2 linked regions of the Homo sapiens genome follow. The protein of the gene in region 1 purifies or fractionates together with the protein of each later gene. This does not show direct contact. Each region holds a gene or a part of one and is shown on either strand. Other genes may lie near its edges.

Region 1 (4,393 bases):
AAAAAAGCCTTGGTTGTAGGGAGTTTCTCCTAATCCCTCTGGGAAAGCAAGGGTGGAGGGGAAGCCAGTCAATCTCCCTTCTGTTGCCGCATGGAAACTCCCTTAAGGCAGGAAGCTGAAAAAACTGTAGCATTCACCTCATTATTCACCTTGTCTCATGTCTCACTGTCCTTCCACATGTCTCATTGTTACTCCATATTGGATGGAAGTAGAAGTCCCTTTGGTATTTTTTAAAGTCTTTGCCATGTCTAAGTTAATGAGGTTAATGGAGGCAGCAGAGATGGCTCCAGGGTTCTGATAGCAAGTGTCAGGCTGCGTGCTCTGTAGGCACCAGAAACTGTTGTCACCAGTAATTTTGATGTGGTCTGAGTTAGAATGGTCTGATTTGCCATGATCTATTTAACATAGCTTGATTTAGCGTGTCCTGTGTTCTGAATTTAAAACTCACAGTTGTGAAACTGATCAGTAAAAAATAAGGGGAGACCAACTAAAAACCATGTTGTTCTATTTATAGATGTAGTTTTTACTTATTTCAAAATACGAGGTATTTAGTTTTACATTCAAATTGTTCTCTAACTCTCTAAAATGTTCTCTGACTATTTTTGCCCTTAAGGGAGAAACCAGATGTCATTGGTCTTACGTGGCTGGTGTTGGGGGTGGGGAGGGTTAAAGAAACCACGTTCTCTGTCCTCAGCCAGAAGTTCAGTAATCCAAGGCCAGAGAGTGGACGGCAGAGGCACTGTCCCTGGGGACCTTGGTTATAAGTTATCCAGACACAGGGACCAGAGCCTGGGAGACAAAAAAAGATGTAGCCCTAGGGCTTTGGGAAAAGGAGGATGGACCCAGTGAATTCCACGCTTAGCAAGGACCTAAACAGTGTCCCCCAAATGAGAGAAGGGAGGACAGAAAGAACACTTCAGGATGGAAATGGGCTGACACTTAACCGTGGAGTGTCTCTGCAAACTTCCTTTGCCATTCTCCTGTTTGAGTTTGATAAACCTGAGAAGAGACTTGGATAAAGACCGTCACGAAGACTACACTAATGAGTTTCTTCTAGCTTTTTTCTACTCACTTTCCCTATCTATCCTTCACATTGGGAGTTGGCATGAGGATCCCAGCAGCCCATCAGGGGAGGACTCTAGAGATCCCTTTCCCCATTGCCTCTCCTCCCCATACCCCCAGGCATATCCTCCCAGGGCACGGAAGCTGAGAAGCAGTCCAGAACCACAGTGGGCTAGTGAGGGGTACCTGCTGATGTACCCTTTGGACAGCATTCTGCCCCACCCTGCAGGAAGAAGCAGAAGGAGGGAGAGGGTGAGGCAGAGAATAAATAACCCTGACCAGGGAGGTCCAAGGGAGTAGGCGGAGACAGAGAGGCTGTATTTCAGTGCAGCCTGCCAGACCTCTTCTGGAGGAAGACTGGACAAAGGGGGTCACACATTCCTTCCATACGGTTGAGGTGAGTGCAGGAGGCCAGGGGCATGTCCAGGTGCATGGGTTACTTGCAGCTAGGGGTCTCCTGTTAGACTTGCTGAGTGCATGAGAAGCCAGGCTGTGAAGAACCAGAAGTGGGAGATGTGTAGGAAGCCCCTGACTCAAAGGACAGGCAGCCTTAGTGATCTCTAGGTTTGTGTGCTGAACAGAAAGCATGTGGGTGCTGGAGGTAGCCTAAGGGTAGTTTTCAAGCAGTTTTTCAGTGATTAGTTTACTAGTATGCCCATCTGGAGGCTGGCAGGGGCTGATGTGAATGAGGACAGAGGACAGAGGACAGGCTGGGCTGGGGTTAGACTGGGGCTGCATTGGGGTTGGGTCGGGGTTTGGTGTGTGAACAGGGTGAACGTGGTTGAAGCTCAGTCTATGACTGGGGATGAGGCTGCAGCTGGGGTGGAAGTGGGGCTCTGAGTGAGGTTGGTTTCACTGTATGCTGTACATCAGGAGTCAGGCTGTGGCTGAGACTGGGACTTAGTAATCTTCCTGGGGCTCCGATCTCAGCTTGGTCTGTGTCTAGGATCAGGATTCAGTCTTCAGCCCATTTAAAAAGTAGATTAGTGTCCACACGGCAACACCCCTTGCCTTGTACTCTTTACCCTAGCTACACTAAGTCACTTTCAGCTTTCCAAACAAGGTCTGTTCTCTTTCTCTCTGGCTCTTTGTATTAGCCAGGATGTATTTTTAAAAACAAACTAGATAAGTTCTGTTGCTGAAATTCCCCCAAGTCACTCAGAATTAAACCAAAGCTCCTTGCCATACCCTGCAAGACCCTGTTACCTGATGAGGTCCTTGCCTTCCTCCCGCCTCATCTTCTCAAACTCTGTTGTGCTCTTGATGCTCTGGCCACCTTGACCTTCCTTTTGTTCCATGAATCCCCCAATATCATTCTTGCTGGGGGACGCTTTTCTCTTGCTGTCTCCCACAGTTGGAATGCACTTTCCCTGGATCTTAGAATGGCTGGTGTTTTCTCATCACATGTCACATCCTTAAGAGAGGCTTTTTCTGACCCCTGTCTCCAGTATGAGTGTCCTGCACCCATCTTCCTCTGTCCTATCACTCTTTCTTTCGTGCCCTTATCTTCAACTGAAATTTTATTTGTTTACTTCTCATTATTGGCCTCGTGTTATATGAGCTCCATAAAAGCCATCATCTTGTCTGATTTATCTACTGTTTCATCTCCAGTTTTTGACACTCAATATGTTTTTGTTGTCTAACCGAATGCTGCTGTGCCCCACCCCATTAACTGCCTGTGTCACTGCCCCATTACCTGCCTGCAGCAGGTCCCGCCACTGCCATGGCTTAAATGTCACCTCCTCAGGGAAGCCCTTGGAACCTAAAAAGCTTGCTGAGCTATTGTTGTCTTTGCTTCTGAGGCCCTTTTGCTTCCCCTTGTCCCAGAATTTATCATAATGTGCTGTGATGGCTGCATATTTGTCTCAATTTCTCCCCATCCTTGGAAGGCTGGAACGATATCTCTGGTACTCAGTGGAGTCTGGCACAGAAGTCCGTCAATGATTATTGAAAAAATGAGTACACTGATCAAAATCCCACTTTGGGCATTTCCCTTGCCTTACATTTGCTTGCAGCCAGAATAGCTCTACAGGGAACTGGTAACTAGGTGCAGCTTTGCAGATCTTTAGAACACTTATCTGGTCCTACTCAGGAAGTGGAGGAGCAGAGACCTGAAACCTAGGAACTCTGCCTAGGGGTGATTTTAGGTGGTCAGGCTGACTTGAGTGACCAGGGTGGGGTGAGGGCTCACTTGGCTTTTTGGGAGTTAGAAGTTGCTCTCTCTCATCTTTCCATTTTCATCTTGGCCATTTTAAGAAGAGTGACCAACACCTTGCAAGGGTTCATCTGCTTTATTAAATACAAGCAAGGTGTGGGGCACAGTGGATGCAGATAATTTGAGTGGAAGTCATGCTGGGGCTACTACCCTCACTAAGTGTTAGGGAAGGGACTCTATTTAAGAATCAAGTGACAAGCTCCTCCAGTCCTTGCCAGCCACAGCATTGCCCCTGAGGTCTGCCTTCCCTCTCTGTGCCTGGGATGAGGAGCCAGAGGCTCCCAGGTATGTCTGGGCTTCTCTCCAGGGACATTCTTTTCTAAATATTCCCAGAGGCTGACAGCAGCGCCAGAGGCCCTCACTCCATTGCTCTGGGCATGAAACATTCTGTGTGTTTAGCCCAGATAGTGACACTGACAATGAATCTCCTCCTGGTTCTCCTTCCACACTGAACCTAAGTGGGGAGAGCTGGTCATGTGTCCTGAGTCCGAGAGGGGCCCCTGGACTCATGGGTCATCAGTGTTGGATTCCTGAGAGATTAATATTGAAATAGTGCTTACAAAGCGAAGTCCCTTCTTAAGGAGACATGGGGAGGGGTAGGGCAGTAGCTTGGCCTACTGTAAAGCAATGGATTTAGCACTAAGGGCTCTAACTAACCCTCAACATCCTTATCTGTCAAATGGGATTAATGATATCTGCTTGACAGGTGGATGAGAGGCTCTAATTAGATAATAAGGAAATACGTGGTAGAGGACAAGCCTTTTAATCTCCATTGTGGGGCCTACCCACCTCACAGCCTTTGGAGTTAGGGCTGAAAGAGGAGGTGAGTGTCCCAAGTTCCAGTGCAGAAGAGTCTTCTTTGCAGCCCTCTTGGTTTCCCTTCTAAGAGTATACCCAGGGCAGCTGTGCTACTTACCAAGCCCTTCTTATACCTTGCCTTTTGGGTGGATTTTATTAGCTTTCAGAAGGTGCAGCAAAATTAAAGGCAGCCTAGAATGAGGGAAAGTGTATAGGCCTTGGTATGAGACTATCTAGGTTAAGTTTCTGCATTACCAGTCACCTGTTAAACTTTGGTTATGTTATTTAATGTCTTGGAGCCTCAGTTTTCTCACCCAT
Region 2 (3,814 bases), on another chromosome or scaffold:
TGTTCCCCTTGTCAGCCTGGCATGGATCCGCTTAACCTCCTTCAGCTCTCAGATATCACCCGACCTTTCACATCATGGGGCACTCCAGCCTCCCTCCCTTCTGTTCTCCCCAGCCCCCTGGTGTCTTCACGCCTCACCTGCAGCATAGGCAGCAGGGCCCTGTTAGAGGGCTGAGTTGGTGGATGGACGTGGGCAGTCCTGGGAACCTTCCTAAAGCCAGTTTGCATTTGATGTTTCGGCTTATTCTTCGTAGGAAGTACAGTGACGTTTGCCATGTTTTTCAGACACACATGCTCGGACATCAAGAGTATTCTTCTTCACCGCTATTTCAGGTGCCAAGGACTTCAGGCAGGGAGCCCTCAGCTCCTTCCGGGAACCTCCCCCACCGGGGACTGCAGGGCCCTGGGCTGGGTTACCCCACCAGCTCCACGGAAGACCTCCAGCCTGGCCACTCCTCGGCCTCTCTCATCAAAGCAATCCGCGAGGAGCTCCTCCGGCTCTCCCAGAAACAGAGCACCGTGCAGAACTTCCACAGCTGATCGGCCTCGCCTCGCAGATTTGCCAAGTATCCGCTTCCTGTGGAAGCAAGACCAAAAGGAAATCAACTGAGTGGGTGTTTGGAAGAGGAAGGAGCAACTCTCGGGCAGCCTGCCCAAGGGAGGGAGCAAGTTGCAATTTAGAAGATGCCATACGTCGTGTGACAGCTCATGAGCCTTTCACTGGGCTGGCAATTGTCTGAACACTTGGGTTCAGTTGAAATATATGTATTTTGGCCAAAAGCCAGCAGCACTTCACAAAAACAAAACACAAACCTAAGCTAACAAAATGACTGCATTCGTCTCTTTTTTAAAGGTAGAGATTAAACTGTATAGACAGCATAGGGATGAAAGGAACCAAGCGTTTCTGTGGGATTGAGACTGGTACGTGTACGATGAACCTGCTGCTTTGTTTTCTGAGAAGAGGTTTGAAGACATTTTATTAACAGCTTAATTTTTCTCTTTTACTCCATAGGAACTTATTTTAATAGTAACATTAACAACAAGAATACTAAGACTGTTTGGGAATTTTAAAAAGCTACTAGTGAGAAACCAAATGATAGGTTGTAGAGCCTGATGACTCCAAACAAAGCCATCACCCGCATTCTTCCTCCTTCTTCTGGTGCTACAGCTCCAAGGGCCCTTCACCTTCATGTCTGAAATGGAACTTTGGCTTTTTCAGTGGAAGAATATGTTGAAGGTTTCATTTTGTTCTAGAAAAAAAAAATCCCTCCCAAAGTGGGGCAAAAAGCTTTATATTTATTTGATTATCCAAAATACAGATCAAAGTTTAGATCTACATTCTTCATTGTATTTGCTGTTTCTTAATTGGGCACACACAACTCCTGGTCATGTCCCAGTTCAGCACCGATCGCTAAGGCCGATCCTGTAGAATGCGGCTTTCAAGAGGTCCTAACTGATCCTTTCTTCCACTTTGCTGTTGATTTGTTCACAAATTATGTCTGAATGAGAAATCTTCTGTAAGCAGAAGTTATTTAATAATTCCCAGCACCACGAAATTGTTATACATACATCCCTACCAGTCACATTCCCTGTGTTCAGAGCCTGGAAATGAAATTGAGTTCAGTTCAGCCTCTCTGTAATGAATCAAGAAATGTAAAAGAGCTTTGAGACCCCAAGGGAAAGGAGAGAGTTGCTTCTCATTTCTGATTTTATTGTGCTGTTACTCTGTCGAGTGGCTATTAAAATTGTCTTATGCTCTTTGGGCTAAGAGGGGATCATCTCGCTTAAGATGTACTCCTGATGTAAACATTTCCCCCACTTTCCAAATAATGGTAAAGAAAACAGTGGCAAGGGCTGTTCTGTTTTCTGGTACCTGAGTGAAACTCAGAAGAAAAGCAGGCTTAGCTAAGAGATTTTCACTATTAACCTGTTTTTATTAGATCAGCGAAGACAGTCATGCATCGCTTAATGATGGGGATGCATTCTGAGAAATGTGTCATTAGGCTGTTTTGTTGCTGTGCCAACATCCTAGATTGTACTTACACAACCTACATGGTATAGCCTACTACACACCTGGGCTGTGTGGCATGGCCTATTCCTCTTAGGCTACAAACCTGTACAGCATGTTACTGTACTGAACACAATGGTAAGTATTTGTGTATCTAAACATAGCTAAACATAGAAAAGGTATGGTAAAAATACAATTTTATAATCTTATGGGACTACCATCAATATGTAGACCGTCATTGACCAAAACATCCTGATGTGTGCATGACTGTACTTTTCATTAAATAACAGATAAGGGGCTATAGAATTTGGGGCTCTGACTGATCAAAACCTGTGTATCTGTGTCAAGTTTTAAGACCCCTGAAACAGCTAAAACAGGTTTCCAAAGTGTAATCACTGGATTTCAAAACCATGTTTTAGCCCTTCATTAATGAAGCCTGTTGTACAGATTTAGAGTCTTACAATATGAGGGAAGTTGGTTCTGGGAAGGTAAGATGTAGCCAGTTTTCATCTGGGCACCTCTGAAAGAGAAGGAGTGCAGGAGAGTAAGTCTCTCAAGGACGTTCAACAAAGGACCAGCAGCATCTTATCAGGCGATCCTCAGAGGCTCCAAGGAGCATTGGAGAGAATGCCCCTTTCTGGGCTTGATGTCTTGGTTTTGGTTTAATACCAAATTTCTCTTGGTCTTGGTTTAATACCCGACTCCTCCCAAATTGAACGATTATCTTTGTATGTCACTCAAAAATACCAGGTTTCCTGAATATGTTATTAAGAATTTCAGATATCCAAGCAGAATTTTATTATGGACACCTTGTAATGAATTCAAATCGTGTGACAGCAAACGGGATAAATGGCCCCTTCTCACCCAGTTCCGCTCAGGGCCATACAGGCTTGCACATAGAGTGTGCTAAAAATGGTAACCTCCTTTGAGCATTGCAGAAAGAGGGTTCTGTTTCAAATTGGGCTGACCGTAAAAGCAATTTTGATGTCTTTCAAACTACCATAAAGGGATTTTAACTGTATTTTTATTCTTAGAAACAATACACCTTTAAACAGATGTCAAGACCAAAGATGATGTATAATAAACAGCCGGTGGTTATGGTGTGGTGTGAGCAGGCCCCCGGATCACCAGCCCTCTGCTGGTGGTCATAAAGCACACACAGTTTGTACTTGCTTCCTCTCGACGCCTGCCACAACAGTTTTGCCAGTCACCAAACTCAGAAAAAACTAGCTGTGTGAGCAGCACCGTACCCTAGCGGTCTTCAGACATTAAGTTCACGTCATCCACTGAAAGGAAGGGTCCTTGCGTTGACAGCGTGTGGCTTTGGAGTCCGTTTATGGAAGCACTCTACAATGAACAGTTGAATTTTATGTCTATTCTTTTTTCCTATTTTAAAAGTTCTAGTGGTAACACAAACTGTAAATTTGAGTCAGAATGTTTGGAGAAATGTTGTTTTTTTTTTTTTCAGAGACTACTTTGTCACTCACTGACCATGTCTGGTTCCTTCTCTGAACTTCATTCTCCCCATAAGCCAAACAAGAACAGACCTCCCCCGCCACCTCCCAGGCACCGTAGTTGTGAGAATCAGATGTGATCATGTGTGCAGATGTCCTGTGAGGAGGGAGCATAAAGCACTGTGAAAATGTAGCATGCTGTCTATGTGGACGCCCTAGGATGAGTGATGTGAAACGCTGCACTACTGCGGTGAATGGGTTCACACATGGGTAATGAGCAAAACCGAAAGCTCGGTGTGACTCAGTTTCCTCACTCCCATTTTGCTTTAATTTCACTTCCTTCACCAATTTTC

What was found.
Region 2: the proteins of OR51E1 (region 1) and KIAA1549 purify together in Homo sapiens (affinity purification with mass spectrometry; one large-scale study listed by BioGRID and IntAct). This does not show direct contact.

What each region holds. Positions count from the first base shown.
Region 1 is NC_000011.10:4,642,572-4,646,964, forward strand, and holds the start of OR51E1 (olfactory receptor 51E1), read left to right. Parts: upstream 1-1,410; 5' UTR 1,411-1,459; intron 1,460-4,393. UniProt on the Homo sapiens protein: Odorant receptor.
Region 2 is NC_000007.14:138,834,631-138,838,444, reverse strand, and holds part of KIAA1549 (UPF0606 protein KIAA1549), read left to right. Parts: intron 1-284; coding exon 285-539; 3' UTR 540-3,814. UniProt on the Homo sapiens protein: May play a role in photoreceptor function.